Linked DNA regions of Homo sapiens: region 1 is linked to region 2. A link means that fine-mapping ties the variant in region 2 to the expression of a gene that starts in the linked region. Tissue or cell type: spleen. Region 2 holds a variant in brackets; the other region holds the start of a gene. All regions are shown on one strand. Distances are from middle to middle.

Region 1 (8,106 bases), 160 kb before region 2:
AGACCAGCCTGGTTAGCATGGTGAAACCCCATCTCTACTCAAAATAAAAAAAAAATCAGCTGGATGTGGTAATGCGTGCCTGTAATCCCAGCTACTCGGGAGGCTGAGGGAGGAGAATCGCTTGAGCCTGGGAGGCGGAGGTTGCAGTGAGCCGAGATCCTGCCATTGCACTCCAGCCTGGGCAACTGTGTGAGACTCCATCTAAAAAAAAACAAAAAACAAAAAACCACAAAAAAACAGGCTGGGCACGGTGGCTCATGCCTGTAACTCTAGCACTTTGGGAGGCCAAGGCAGGCAGATGGCCTGAGCTCAGAAGTTTGAGACCAGCCTGGGTAACATGGTAAAACCCCGTCTCTACTAAAATATGAAAAATTAGCTCGGCATGGTGGTGGGTGCCTTTAGTCCCAGCTACTCGGGAGGCTGAGGCAGGAGAATTGCTTGAACCTGGGAGGCGGAGGTTGCAGTGAGCCGAGATTGCGCCACTGCACGCCAGCCTAGGCAACAAGAGCGAGACTCCGTCTCCAAAAAAAAAAAAACAACTAGAAGTTCGAGACCAGCCTGGGCAACATAGCAAGAGCCCTACTCTACCAAAAACATTTTTTTTTAATTAGCCAGGTGTAGTGGTGCAAACCTGTAGTTCCAGTTACTTGGGAGGCTGAGGTGGGAGGATTGCTTGAGCCCAGGAGGCAGAGGTTGCAGTTAGCTATGATTATGCCACTGCACTCTGGCCTGGGCAGCAAGAGTGAGACTCTGTCTCGAAACAAAAAACCAAAGTTTTCTTCATATGTCTGGTGACTTTGGTTGTCTGTTCATACTTAAGAATGTGACACTAAATTGTTCACGGAAGCTCTGTGAACATGAGTATGGTCTTCAGGGCGGGTGATCTGGCTGGCTTATTTCCTTTGGAAACTCTCAATGTTAGTATCTTTGTTTTCTCTCTTGGATTGGTCAGATACCTCAGAGAAATTCTTCTTTTTTTTTTTTTTTTTTTTTGAGACACAGTCTTGCTCTGTTGCCCAGGCTGGAGTGCCGTGGCGCAATCTCAGCTCACTGCAGTCTCTGCCTCCCAAGTTCAAGCAATTCTCCTGCCTCAGCCTCCCGAGTTGCTGGGACTACAGGCGTGTGCCACCACACCCAGCTAATTTGTGTATTTTAGTAGAGACGGGATTTCACCATGTTAGTCAGGCTGGTCTCAAACTCCTGACCTCGTGATTTGCCCGCCTTGGCCTCCCAAGTGCTGGGATTTCAGGTGTGAGCCACCGTGCCTGGCCAAGAAATTCTTCTTTATTGGCCGGGCGCGGTGGCTCAGGCTTGTAATCCCAGCAGTTTGGGAGGCCAAGGCGGGCAGATCACGAGGTCAGGAGATTGAGACCATCCTGGCTAACATGGTGAAACCCCGTCTCTACTAAAAATACAAAAAATTATCCGGGTGTGGTGACACGTGCCTGTAGTCCCAGCTACTCGGGAGGCTGAGGCAGGAGAATTGCTTGAACCCAGGAGGCAGAGGTTGCAGTGAGCCGAGATCATGCCACTGCACTCTAGTCTGGGCGATGGCACGAGACTCCATCTCAAAAAAAAAAAAAGAAAAAGAAAAAAAGAAATTCTTTTTTATACCAATGTCCTGCATGGACGTTACATTCCTGCTTGCCAGCGTTCTGGAAGCTGAATGAGCCGGGTGAAGGAAGAAGACCTGTAGTCCAAATATTTCATTAAATAGTTCATAAACTGGTGCTTAATTACCCTGTTTCTAGTATGTAATTTGATCTTCAACTGTACCTGGTGTCCCTCAGCTACAAGGATGGCAGAAGCAGCAGGTATGTAGGGATGGAGTTGACAACAGGTTGAAGAATGTGTCCTGATGGTTGGCCCCAATCAGTGGTGGTGACTGGAATAAAACAGGGTATCAGTTTCATTCCAGTGCTCTAACTCCTTATATTTTATAACCACATCACACTGAAGAATTAATTCATCCTCTCAGTAATCAATTCTAGTGGCAGGTAGGCAGCTGCTGCCTATGAGCTCCAACACATGCCAGGTGGCTGTACCGTAGCTCCCTTGAGCATTAGGGGGAAGAATGAAATCAGTTACAGAGCTGCTAATCTCTGCTCCGACAGCTGGAGGATGAAGCTCTGGGCTGGTTTCTTTTTAACAGGAAGGAAATTCTGAAAGCCGGAATGTGAAGAAAAAACTTAAGAATCTCTTGTGTCTTGTGAGCTCTGTGGAAATGGCAGTGCTCAGATGCCTTCCGACATGTACTGTGAGGCACAAATTTGGAGATCAGGAAATGAGAGCCTCCATTCAAGGCAGGACAACCACACAGAGTGAACAGATTTCCAAAATAGTAGGACAGGAAAGAAGATCGAGGCAGGTGATTTCTCTCCCTTCTCCTTCTTTTTTTTTGAGACAGAGTCTTGCTCTGTTGCCCAGGCTGGAGTGTAGTGGTGCAATCTCGGCTCACTGCAACCTCCACCTCCTGCGTTCAAAGGATTCTCCTGCCTCAGCCTCCTGAGTAGCTGGAACTACAGGCAGAAGCCACCACGCCTGGCTAATTTTTGTATTTTTATTAGAGATGGGGTTTCACCACGTTGGCCAGGCTGGTCTCGAACTGCTGACCTCAAGTGATCCACCCGCCTCGGCCTCCCAAAGTGTTGGGATTACAGGTGTGAGCCACCATGCCTGGCCTCCTTCCTTCTCCTTGCCAGGCAAAACACAGTGACACCAAAGACTAGATGTCTAAAGAGTAGCTGTCCAGTGGCTGCCTGGGTTGTTAGGGCTGTAAGTCTCTGAAACAGCTGTAAACTGTATGAACCCCTTTGCTCCTGTTTCTCTGAGCATAGAGAGGAACCCCCCCCATAATCTGTCGCGAGTCAACTGCATTTTGTTTTTTTAAAGTATTCTTTTTTTTTTTTTTTTTTTTACGAGACGGAGTCTTGCTCCGTCGCCCAGGCTGGAGTGCAGTGGGGCGATCTCTGCTCACTGCAAGCTCTGCCTCCTGGGTTCACGCCATTCTCCTGCCTCAGCCTCCCGAGTAGCTGGGACTACAGGCGCCCGCCACCACGCCCGGCTTATTTTTGTATTTTTAGTAGAGACGGGGTTTCACCGTGTTAGTCAGGATGGTCTCGATCTCCTCACCTCGTGATCTGCCTGCCTCGGCCTCCCAAAGTGCTGGGATTACAGGCTTTTTAAAGTATTCTTTACATAAAATCTTATGGCATGTGCAATTTTGTCTCTTGCTTCTTAGCTTAATGTTTTTATCATAAGCATTTATTCTGAAAGCCAGAATGCCTTGATCTTCTTTCCTGTGCTATTACGATTTTGGAAATCTTCACTTCGTGAAGTTGTCCTGCCTTGGAGTCTCTCATTTCCTGATCGCCAAATTTGTGCCTCACACTATGTATCGGAAGGCGTCTGAGCACTGCCATTTCCACAGAGCTCACAAGTGTACCAGACACAAGAGTTTCTTAGCTTCCTCTTCACATTTTGGCTTTCAGAGTAAAGAATGAAAAAGGGAAAACCTTGTTGTTAAAAAGTATTGGCAAACAATTTTCTTTCTTTCTTCCTTTTTTTCTGGGACGGCATCTCACTCCGTTGTCCAGGCTGGAGTGCCGTGGCATGATCTTGGCTCACTGCAGCCTCTGCCTCCCAGGTTCAAGCGATCCTCCTGCCTCAGCCTCCCAAGTAGCTGGGATTTCAGGTGCCCGCCACCACGCCTGGCTAATTTTTGTATTTTTAGTAGAGATGGGGTTTCACCATGTTGGCCAGGCTGGTCTTGAAGTCCTGATCTCAAGTGATCTGCCGGCCTTGGCCTCCCAAAGTGCTGGGATTACAGACGTCAACCACTATGCCCAGCTGGCAAACGATTTTCAAAGGCTGTAACAATTGCTCTATTTGTTGGACATTAGTTTTAGACAGTTTTTTGTTATTAAAAAGGACGCTGCGGTGCATGTCTTTTTGCTTACATCCTCTAAATGTAAAATTTAAAAATAATACAGAAAAGTACAAAGTAAAAATCACCTTAAATCCCATCACTTAGGAAATTAACTACTCATATTCACTATTCATATCCCTCTATGCTGATATATGTATCTGAATTTCAGATGATTGCCCTATTAGAATTATAGGTGAAAAGATTTGGCCTCGTTTAAGGCAACGTGTAATTCCTCAGCCTTGAATTTTGATCTAGTGATACCTAACTTCTTTGAGGAATGATCTTAGCTTCCAAACCCAGAATGTGACAGAAAGCGCCACAGCAAGCAAGGTCCTACTTTATCCCTTCTAAAAACAAAGCCACTGAAGTTTGGAAGGGTGTTGAGTTCTCAATATCACAAAGAAAAATAAAGCCACTTCCAGCCTGGAGCCGCCGCTTCTCCTTTAAATACTCGCTCACGTGATCGCAGACGGGCACGCGCGGAGGAACTTCACGCTGTCAGGACAACGAGCCATTCCTCTACCACTTCCCCTCCCCTAAGGCTTCTTGGCGTTCCCTCCCCGGAAGTCACAACTCCTCTGGAGACTTTCTCTTCCTCATCCCCTCCGTCGAGTCACCTATCCTCACTCCTTTCTGTTAGCTGCCGGCCCTAGCGCTCCCTCTCCTCGGCTGAATCTCACTTAGTGGAGGAAAGGCTGAAAGGACTACAACTCCCAGGGGACGCTGCGGGCCCCGCCCATGGGGCGCGCAGTGTAGGTCGGGGCCTGAGGTCCCACGGTCTTCTCGCCGCGTGCGGCCGGGAGCAAACGCACTACAGGTTCCGTGGCGCCTCGCGCGAGGCCAGACCGGGACGGGGCGGGGCGGGGCTGGAGGGGCCGGGACTGGCGGGCGGAGAAAGGGGGTGGGAGAGGAGGCGATGGAGGGGAGGAGTGGGGACATGGGGGAGGGAAGAGGAAGGGAGGTGGGAGGCGGGGCCGACCAAGAGCAGGAGCTGGAGTCTGAGCCGGTGGTTGCAGCGGAGGCGGTGATGTCGGTGCAGGTTGTGTCAGCCGCGGCTGCCGCCAAGGTGCCTGAGGTGGAGCTGAAGGACCTGAGCCCCTCCGAGGCGGAGTCGCAACTAGGACTGAGCACGGCCGCCGTGGGCGCCATGGCCCCCCCGGCGGGCGGTGGAGACCCTGAGGCTCCAGCTCCCGCCGCGGAGCGGCCCCCGGTCCCCGGCCCGGGCTCGGGGCCCGCCGCCGCTCTCAGCCCCGCCGCCGGGAAGGTGCCTCAGGCGTCGGCCATGAAGCGGAGCGACCCACATCACCAGCACCAGCGGCACCGCGACGGCGGCGAGGCCCTGGTCAGCCCCGACGGCACCGTCACCGAGGCGCCGCGCACAGTCAAGAAGGTACTGGGGCCGGGCTGCCTCTCTAGGAGAGGAAGGGAGGGGAGGGGAACTGCAGATCCTCTCGGCACGGCGGCACCACCCTCCACGCCCTCCTTTCTGATCGCAGGACCGGAGATACCCCTTGTCCCCTTAAACCCACTCTCTCAGAGATGCCCCCCAGCCGGCCCCTCGTGCTGGGAGCGGAGACTCCAGGAGGCACGGCCGTACTTCGCTCTGAATAACATGGAGGTAGCGCTCTCCCCTACTACTTGGAATAGGCAGCGGGAGGAGAGACACCTAATAGTACGTCCCGCGGCCCCAACACGCTCCCGGGTGTGATTTTCCAGCCTATCGGGGAAGAGACCTCGATAGTATAGAAAAACCTTACCGCTCACGGGAGTTCACACAGCAATAAGGATGAAAAGATCTTTAATACTTGGAGAACGAGTAAGGTGTAGTCACCTTGCATAGAAATCGTCAGAGTTGTCTGGTTTCCATACAGTTGATGACTTTCTGCCTTTCTGTGGCCAACCGTGGCCATACAGCAACACGATGCTGTGCCCTTCATTTCCAGCGACTGCGATATTCTCTCTTCCCTGAATATGTAAAAGGGTAATGGAGAGATTCTCCTCACTCTTTCGTGTTAAGAGCTTTGTCCTCCCTGCTGGGTATAGTTGGTCACCAGGATTATTAGGCTGTGTATGAAGAGAATGAATGTCTTATTGATTGCTTTATTATAATCTGAAAGTGATAGGAAGAAATGCTGCTACTTTTGGGAAAGACGATCTTTGTGGGGTTTTCGGTCTTAGGCGTCAGCTTCTTTCAGACAGTTTTGAGGAGGTCTCAGAATACCAAGAAGTAACTGCCTAGGTGGATGATAGCCCTGTATTACCCGTACATTGTCTATCCATAGTTGTCTGTCTCTCTCAAAGCTTGTCTTTCTTTCTCTCTTAAAGCTGAATCAGCACAGAAAAACAGGGCAAGTATTGGAAAAGACAGAAGTGTGGATCATATAAAAAGGGCTTACAGCTTCAATTTCGTAGACACAGTATGGGCACAGGGATTAATGTTTTTTTTAAATTGTTGTGAATGGTTTTTAATTGCTTTATCAGAACAGCAACAAAGAGACGGGAAGTGTGCATTGGTTTTACTGTGTGGGACCAGCTGAATTGGAACCTTGGATCCACCATAACTTTTTGTTGTCATAGCGTCATGATTAAGGTATAGCGGATAATCCTTTCATCCTAACGATACAAATTTAGGTGATAAGTCAGAGGCAAGACTGAAGGAATTTCTGTAATGCTTTAGACAATGTCTTTGTCGTTTGTAGTATGAAACTCCTCTGGGAAGAATTAGAGTAGAAAGAGGCAGCATCCTGCAGAAATGGGTTTAAAGAAAAAAAGTAAAGTAAAAAAGAGAGGCAGCAGCAGCACCAGTGCTGGGAGTACCTAGATCTGAGTCTGGAAATCCAAAGCATACTTCTGACTTGTTGAGATACTTTGTATCGTTAAGTCATTTTCTTGTGATAAAGACTGTTTTTGTCTAAACTTTGTAATTTGGTTAGATTTCTTTAGGCTAAAAGTGTTTAACAAATTGCTTTTAGAGCATGAAGTTTACAGTCAGGCAGACCTGGATTTGAAGCCTAGTACCCCCATTACTACCTTTTGGGTAATTTCCAAATTACACAAATCAGTTTCCTCTTCTATAAAATGAAAGTACTAATTATGATTGAGGATTAGAAATATTTGTAAAAGGTTTAGCATTGAGCTTGGCACATAAAGTCTTAAATGATATTCTTACTAATGCTTTTATTATTATGAATAATTGATTTTATTTTATTCCTCCCATCATGGCTTAAGTGCAAGCCCCCATGACCACCTCTGAAAGTTACACACAGTTCAATATATTCTATATAAAGAAATTAAAAAATCATGGCTCACGTCTGTAATCCCAGCACTTTGGGAAACCACGGCTGGTGGATTGCTCGAGTCCAGGAGTTTGAGAACAGTCCGGGCAACATGGTGAAAACCTCTCTCTCCAAAAAAAAAAAAAAAAAAAAGAGCCGGGCATGGTGGTGTGTGCCTATAGTCCCAGCTACTCAGGAGGCCGGGGTGGGAGGATCACCTGAGCCCAGGAAGTTGAGGCTGCAATGAGCACTCTAGCCTGGGTGCTGGAGTGAGACCTTGTCTCAAAAAAAAAAAAAAAAAAAAAAAAGTTAAAAAATCAAAGACCAGCATACTGGAGTCTGTTTTTCTTAATTCTAGATGTGCTTCTTGACCACTTTCCTTGTCGTTGAACCATCTTCCTGTTTTTTCAGCACCAAATGTATGTTCCATGATTGTAGATATACTCAGCAGCCTCAAGGCTATTGTAAAGCAGGGCTGAGCTTGCCTTACAATGTTAATTGCACCAAAAAAACAACTTCTCTGCTGAAAGTTAAGCAGGTGAAGCTCTGGGCAAGGATACAGCTGGATGACGAAATTCAGGGCATTGCTGAGCTGCTTTTCAGGTGCCCAATCTTTAACCTTCTTGATATTGAATTGGCTAAATCAAAATAAGTGCCCAAGACTGCCCTTTCCCTAAGTTGAAAGTCATCTCACCAAGGAACTGCAGTGTGACATTTTGATTTGTTGAGCCTTTGTTGATTCTTAGATTGTCTATGTAAATAACCACTTTGACCTTGACTCCTTACTGTTTTTCTTATAGCATATGAAGGAACTGAGAATACTAGTATTGAAATAGCTGCCTTTGGCTGTGGAACTGGTGACTGTTGCATTTGTTTTTTAACTTTCATGTATAAACATTTATT
Region 2 (8,106 bases):
TCATATAACATATATATGATAATATATATCATATATATTATGTTGCTAATATGTTTTGCTAATATATCATATATATGATAATATATATCATATATATTATGTTGCTAATATGTTGCTAATATGTTTTGGTCTTTTCCTTTCTATTTAAATGCAGGATCCATGAGAACAGAGATTTTTTTTTTTTCTGTTTTACATTGCTCTATTCCCAGCACTTAGAACTGTGTTTGACACAGAAGAGGTACTCAATAAATAAATATTGGTGAAAGGTGTTCAGAGACGTTATACTTTTATACCCTTGTTGAGGTCCCTAATATACTCAGTGTGTATGAACAACAAAAGCAGGTTTATGAGATTTCAAAAAAAGATACTTTCCTGTCCAAAGTGCTTGTTTTGCTGAAGATACTCAGAGGCTTACATAGGCTCTAGCCTCGTCTCCCTTCCTAAGGCTCCTAGTACTAAGTTTTGCCATGCTTTCATTTAGGAACCTCTGCCAGCTTTTCTCAACCAGGGATCCTCATCTGAATCACAGAACACAGAAAATGATTTTATAGACTTTTCTTAATTTTCCAAAAGATGATACATAACTAGTACTTTCCAGATGCGTAGGAGAGAAGTTAATTCATTATGTACAATGGATGCTTCAAGGCATTAGGACTTAATTTCTAGCAGAACCCAGGTTGAAAAACGCTGCATTAATCCACGAAACTATTTTATAAGAAGCAAACTTCTAAAAAACTCTTCCCCTAAGGAAAAAAACCTCATAAAAACAAATGAACAGAAGAGACTTCTTTTTTAATCAGACCGTTCTCAGTGATATATTTCTGAATAAGCTGTCTTTGCAATGAGTTACTTGGTTAAGGATGAGGAAAGAAGACAGAAGTCCCTTCTTCACGATTGGTTCTTTTTGTTCCCAAACTCTACAATTCTTATAAAGTTTGAGATATTTTCAGATTTTTCCAAACAACAAAATTTTGTGTTTGTATTTGGGATGCTAGCATAGCTTTTTACACATTTCCAGAGTGTTACTCATCAGTGAAGTCTGCTATAACCCGACACACAGGTCCCTACTGTTATTTCCATTACCAAATGAATAGGTTAGGCCCAAGAGGAATTGCCTGACATAAAATAGTCTAATAGGACTAATTCAGTCAGGGTTCTGACTGCTGCTTCTCCTAGCAGTAACTCACAGTATCACAGCTGCTGAGAGGTAAAGCTTAATCAGGCTTGAATCATAAAATGTGTATACATGTTCTGTGAGATAGATTGTGGATTCTTGATTCATCATGCTGTCTTTTGATTTTGGAAAATAATGAAACAAGATAACATCCCATAGTAAAGTTATATTGTACTTCATACTACTTTTCTACGTAGAAACTGAACCCTTTTGGTTATCATCTCATTTATTCGTAAGATTTTTCCGGTGGTAGTTGGGGGAAAGAGAGAGCATGAGGAAAGAGGGAATCTGTTACAGTTTACAGTTGGATAAATTGAAAATTGGTCACTTAACCACTTAGGGTTGAAGCTAGATCTAGGATCTCAGGACTACTTTAGTAGGTTATTGGTTGTTCTTGTTTATTTAAATTATGACTCTGGGCTTTAGAGTATGCTGACAATTACAAATATTTTAGAAACTCTGTTCAAGTGTGTTTGTACATACGTGTTGGGTTTCTCTAAATTTTCCTAGGAACAGTCCTTAATACTATCTCAACTGTCATCATGAGTTTGTTACTCTGTGGCAGAAATGAGTACGGATTCAAAGAATAAATGAGTAAATTTATTTATTCATTTATTTATAATTCATTCATTTATAATTCAGCAATAACCTTTCCACTGTGTTTGCAGAACTAATAATATATTCTCTTGGTCTGGATCTGTCAGCCATGTCGTATCCACATAGTAGTACAATCTAGACAACTGATATTTTTGGTTCTTACCTGATAGCAGGTCCGTATAAAGGGCTCTTTGAGGCCGGGCATGGTGGCTCAAGCCTGTAATCCCAGCACTTTGGGAGGTCAAGGTGGGCGGATCACCTGAGGTCAGGAGTTCAAGACCAGCCTGCCCAGCATGGCGAAACCCCGTCTCTACTAAAAAGGCAAAAATTAGCCAGGCACCGTGGTGGGCTCCTGTAATCCCAGCTACTAAGGAGGCTGAGGCAGGATAATTGCTTGAACCCAGGAGGCGGAGGTTGCAGTGAGCTGAGATCGTGCTACTGTGCTCCAGCCTAGGTGACAGAGTAAGACCCTGGCTCAAAAAAAAAAAAAGGGATCTTTGAAAACAAATACATTTTGGCTCAAAGAAAAACATTGGTTGAATTAACTGTAACTACTTGACTCCTGTTAAGAAAGTAAAACACTGTTTTTTCCAGGTTTTAGAATAGAGAAGTGGTGTAAAGATTTTTTTCTTTGAGTTGGTGTGGGGAAATGGTAAAGCCAGAAATTGGAATGCTTCTCTTAAGGGGAAATTTTCAAATTTTGTTTTGCTTTTTGGTTTTCTTCTGACTCATTCTTAGAAACTAAAGAGGCATAGGAAGGGCAATCTCTTCTGGGTAGAGTTAGGACTCCAGTCTCAACCTCTCAAATCACTGCCAGCCAACCACCTGCTGTTTGGGTAGATTAGTAGGAGATGATGGAGGTATAAAAAAAGATAAACTGCTAAATGATTATGTATGTATATCATTCTTTTCCCATTCAAAATCTTAAAGCTGAGTAAGAACCCTTAAAGATGTTATATCTGGAACTGAATTTAAAATATGTGCTAAAGTGGGTAATATCAGGTATCATTTATTGAGTGCTTAATTACTGTATGCCAAGCATTGCAGTAAACACTTTACATACATTATCTTACTTAATCTGCTTAACAACTTGACTCTGACAAGTCATGTTCTCCTATTATATAGTCTTATGACATCCTGATTTCTGCTTTATAGCACACATTACAGATGTATTTTTTAAAGCTCTAAATAATTAATTTTGTAACTAGTTATTTCTTTTTTGACTCACTGACTAGACTGAAAACTCCATGAAGATAAGGACCATCTATATCTGTCCTGTATTTCCAGCACCTAGGCTATGCCTAGTACATAATAGATGCATAACTAAAATTTGAATAAACACCTGAGTGTGTGAATGACTGAATACGTGAATAAATTAACAACTCTTTCAAACGGATCAGCTCCACTTTATACACCCAAAAACAGAGACTGAGACTTAAACCAAAGACTGACTCCAGAACACATGACCGCTATATTTAAATGGCCATTGGGAAGCATAAAAATCATCATGACTCTGAAAAAGAATTTGAGATTTCAGGATATTCTGAATATGAACACTTTCTTCAAAAGTAATTTTCCATAAATCTGGATCGGGATTAGAGATGGCTGTTATCTTTTTATCTCTCAGGTGGTAGAAGCATGGTTCCCCTAAGCCTCTGATTTATTAGGTATTTCTGAATATTGATTAGTAAAACAGATGACTTCCCAGAAAGCTGTGTCTGGGTTCTGTTGCCAAAAGTACTTTGAGCTTTCACTCACCCTAGGAGAGGGAACCACAAACTTTTTGTACAGATTAGCTCCTTTCAAGAACAAAAGTCTCTTTGGGGATTTACTAATTCCCTCACCTCCCCTGGTGCCCATGTTCATTCCTGTTGCCTCGTGTTAGGACTTTGCTCCAGCTCCAAAAGAGATTCTGAAGCCCCTGCTGCCCAAATGGTTTGTAGTGCCATGCCTGATTAACTGGGCAAGGTCAGACTTGCCTTTTACAGCCCTCGCAGAGGTAGACCCTTTGCTAAGAAATCTCAGAAATGCCTTAATTCTCTGCATATAAGTAGATCAGAGCATCGTAGACCGTAGGCACTCTGAGCTTTCACAGTTTTCTACCCTTAAAAGTGATGGCAGTACTTATTCCATTGAGAGATACAAAGCGTTTTCTAGAGAGTGTTTCTTAACCCCCCAAAAAACTTGGGGGTTAAGAACTATCTTCAGAAGCTCAAACACAAATCAGGGAAGGACACTGCTTCAAATAATCTAGCAAATGGTTAGTAACTACAGAATCCTATGAAGACTAAAAAGACCCCAGCTAAGCATGTGAATAGTAGTAGCAGCAGCTGCCTGTTAACCACGATAAAAAGTTTTAGGCCTTTCACACTCTAGTATATGTTGCTAAATGGATTAGTTATCAGAGCATTTTATTGTACCAAAGGAGGATTTATTCACTTCTTTGGGAGTCTAAAATGCCTAACGCCAGACCTACTGAGGCCAGCAAGAAGGGAGAGCACATTGAATACTTCATTGTCAATGTCTAATTGGGTCTGCAGGCACAATTCAGCCTCATCAGAGTCCGTCTTAAAAAAGAAAGCTCTGTTAGGTCAGACAAATACTTTTTGTGTGGTTCTTAATTACTTTCCCATGGATTCCTTGTTTTCTAGGTCTTATCTGTTCAGTAATTGTACTAAAACACAAATTATATCAAACATTTAAGCAGCACACAGAGCAGAGTAGTTAGAATCCCAAAAACCCATATGTTAATGACCACGATCTTGCATTAGGAACTTTAACCTAATGCTACCATGGTGTAACCTTTTCTTTTTGCGTATTCAAGGACCTCTGCGTGTTCTGAAGATAAAGTTAGCCCTACATTTCAAGTTAAGGCTATCCAGGAAGAATGTCTTTGGCAATCTCTTTCAGCTTCCCTCTTCTGGCATGTGTATAGCCTGCAGGTACTTAACAGAGGTAAAAAAATTTATATGGTGCTAGGTGGCTAGAGAAGCTTCAGTTTGCTCCATGGTTTGGAATTTTAGAGGAAGCATTTTTTTTTTTCCGAGTGTTTTTTATTCTGTCATTCCAGCGGCTTCATATACAGATAGCTCTGATGATGAGACATCGCCCAGGGACAAGCAGCAAAAGAACTCTAAGGGAAGCAGTGACTTCTGTGTTAAGAACATCAAACAGGCAGAGTTTGGACGAAGAGAAATTGAAATTGCTGAACAAGGTAAAGAAAACAAGCACCTTTTCCTTCTTAACCTACCTGTGTCTTTTTGTCC[A/G]TATTAATCCCTTTTTATGTCTGGGGTCTGGTAGCTTGTGAAATTTCTATGTGATAAGAATACTTATAACAAAAGAAATGTGAGTTCAAGAAACACTGGGGAAATCTGGCAAGTCTAGAAGGAACCCTGTATTAAAAAAAAAAAAAAAAAAGGGAGAGAGACTGGATAAGGACTGGAATATAGAGAATCAGAACCCTGGAGCATTTGCCTCCAAAAGCCCTTTATAAAGGAAAATACAGGTTTAATGTCTTGATCCCTGGAGAAACCTAATCTAACCTGATCAGGGGAAGGATCTTAACTTAAGAAAACAAGTTTTTCTGTTTGTTCTTTTATCTCTTATTCCTTCTTCTTTAATATTGCTGTATTTATTGGGCCTTTTCAGAAATGCCTGCATTGATGGCTTTGAGGAAGAGAGCTCAAGGAGAAAAGCCTTTGGCTGGAGCCAAAATCGTGGGTTGCACACACATCACTGCTCAGACTGCTGTGAGTTCTTTTCTTTTCTCCTTTTAATTACAATAGTTAATAATAGCCACGAGCTACTGAAAGCTTACAACATGCCAAGCACCGAGTTAAGAGCTTAACAAGTATTAGCTTATTAATCCTTATAATGGCCATATAAAGCAGGTATTCTTGTTTCCATTTTATAAACGAAGAAGCTGAGGCTCAGAGGGCTTAAGATATTTGTTTAAGGTTATACAGCTAGAAATCACAGAGTCAAGATTTTAACTTCAATATACAGTAGTCCCCCTGCCTTGTCTGTGGGGGATAAGTTTCAAGACCCCTAGTGGACACCTGAAACTTCAGACAGTACTGAACCCTATATATACTATGTTTTTTCCTATACATATATACCTATAATCAAGTTTAATTTATGCAATTGGCCCTGCATGTCCACCAGTTCTGCTTCCTGAGGATTTGACCAACTGCAGATCAAAAATATTCAGAAAATAAAATAATACAACAATACAAAATAACAAGAAATATAACAACTATTTACATAGCATTTACACTGTATTGGGTACTATAAATAACCTAGAGATGCTTTAAAATATACAGAAGGATGTGCACAGATTATATGCAAACACTGCATCATTTTATATAAGGGACATGAGCATCCTCAGATTTTGGTATCCATGGGAGTGCTGGAATAAATCCCCTGAGGATACTGAGAGACAGCTATAAATTCAGCACAGTAAGAAATGAACAACAGTAACTCAAAATAAAAGAGAGCAATTACAACAACAGACTGTAATAAAAGTTATGTCACATAAAGGAATTTATCACAGTACATAGCAGAAAGTCCAAAGGGAAGGCAGACTTCAGATGCAGGATCTCAGGGCTCCAGCTTCACCTCTCTGATTCTCTTGGAGCTGCCTCCTCAGTATGCTTACTTCACCCTAAAGCTGATAGCAAGATGCTTACAACTATTCTAGTCATCACAAACTGACATGAAAAGGAAGAGGGACCATTTCTTCCTCACTCAAGAGAAGTCCCTCCAGGATACTCCATCGTGTCTCATTGGGCAGAACTGGATCATGTATCTGTGCTCCACCAGTCCTACCGAGGGGCGTGGAATTACCATGATTTGCTTACACCAGTGATTCCTACCTTACTCTCATCAGTTTTAATGTCCCCTTTTTATTAAAAAACTTTTTTTTTGCAGTGTCCCTGAACTATCCTGAAATGAAATTCAGATATAACATGTCCAGGTACATATAATCTTTAAAAATAAATCAATATAAAATCTTAACTGAAATATGAAGGAGGAATAAAAAAAGTACAATACTTAAAATAATGTGTATTTCAATATGTAAATACTTGAGGACAACTATAGTAGAACAATCAGATATTTGTACTATTTCACAGTATTATTTGAAATAGTATTATTTGAAGACAGAAATAAATGTGTTATTGATTCCAGAGCATCAGAGCAGCATTGCCATGATTTTCTGAAATAGTAAACAACTTTTTGTAATCTTCTAAACAATAAGAACAACAAAAAGTATGAGTTTTCTCTTCATTTACATAGCTGTTACATTCCTGGAAAAACTATTGTTTTGTATTAAAACTACAAAACTACTTTTTGCTAATTTGTAAAGTGGAATTAGGTTCTAAACTCAGATAATTGTAGATAGGTTTTTCACCCATGGGAACTTTTATTGGGACATTTGAAAATTGTACCAGCTGCAACACAGTTTTTTGTTGAGACACTTTCAAAATGTCCAGATTCCTGGTCCTGCCCACTAAATGCCAATAGCACTCCCCTTCCAATTATTGTGGCAACCAAAAATGCCCCCACAATTTTCTAGATCTCCTCTTTTATCACCAGAGATGCAATATATATGGAGTTGCTAACCATAATGAGACCACTATCGGGAAATTGTTATATTGAGCAGTGGTCTGGAATCTTTTATGGGGATTCATAAGATCTGGGTCATCTGTGTGGCTAGATCAGCTTTCCAAAGATTGTCTCTCCCAAAGCACAACACTTATGTGGTCACATTCCTGATTAAGAACATTAGAGATTCCTCAAGGTACAGACAGCTTCTATTAGCATCTTCACTATGAAACTTTTCTGGGTTATGTGTTCTCTGAGGACAAGAGTACCCTGACTGCTCAAAATTAATATAATAAATTGAAAAGCTATCTGTTTTGGAGCTACAAACTAATGAATCAAGACAGAAACACTCTTGAATCTTTTTTGGCCTGCTCAGTCAGCGACATGAGACTTCAGTGTGGTAGCTTAAAATAGTAAGTGCTTCTCTACTGTCTCATGTTGCTGAATTACATCTAGTTTGTTTTTTACCCTTAGGCTCAGTGAGCATTACCACCTTTCATGGTTCCCTTTCTATTTTTTTCCTGAATGGATTGATCACAATTAGCTTACCAATTTTAATATTAATTTATTGTTTCCACCCCACATTTTTTTCCTTTAAAAAAATAACGACAAAGAAATTATGCTTTGTTTGCCAACCTAATACTCTTTCACTCTTGTCTTAGTTCATTTGGGCTGCTATAACAAAATACCTTAGACTGGGTAATTAATAAACAATAGATATTTATTGTTCA

Which allele goes with the higher level. Alleles are on the strand shown, and positions count from the first base shown. SD is a standard deviation of normalised expression in the study named.
For the expression in spleen of the gene that starts at base 4,909 in region 1, A is the high allele of the variant in region 2 and G is the other (small effect, 0.30 SD a copy in GTEx).

The links. PIP is the estimated chance that this variant, and not a neighbour inherited with it, causes the effect.
Region 1: it holds the start of AHCYL2, and the variant in region 2 is fine-mapped to the expression of AHCYL2 in spleen (GTEx, PIP 0.95).

The regions. Positions count from the first base shown.
Region 1 is chr7:129,220,122-129,228,227 of GRCh38, forward strand. It overlaps AHCYL2 (adenosylhomocysteinase like 2), which reads left to right and starts at 4,909. Exons shown (of 17, transcript NM_015328.4): 1 at 4,909-5,318. The coding sequence starts at 4,956. RefSeq lists silencers at 1,887-2,181, 4,803-4,872, 4,993-5,242 and an enhancer at 4,413-4,522.
Region 2 is chr7:129,384,215-129,392,320 of GRCh38, forward strand. AHCYL2 (adenosylhomocysteinase like 2) reads left to right here. Exons shown (of 17, transcript NM_015328.4): 3 at 4,842-4,985; 4 at 5,420-5,520. Among named protein-coding and RNA genes, the nearest start is that of STRIP2, 46 kb to the right of the region's middle. The variant A/G (reference allele first, on the strand shown) is at 5,038.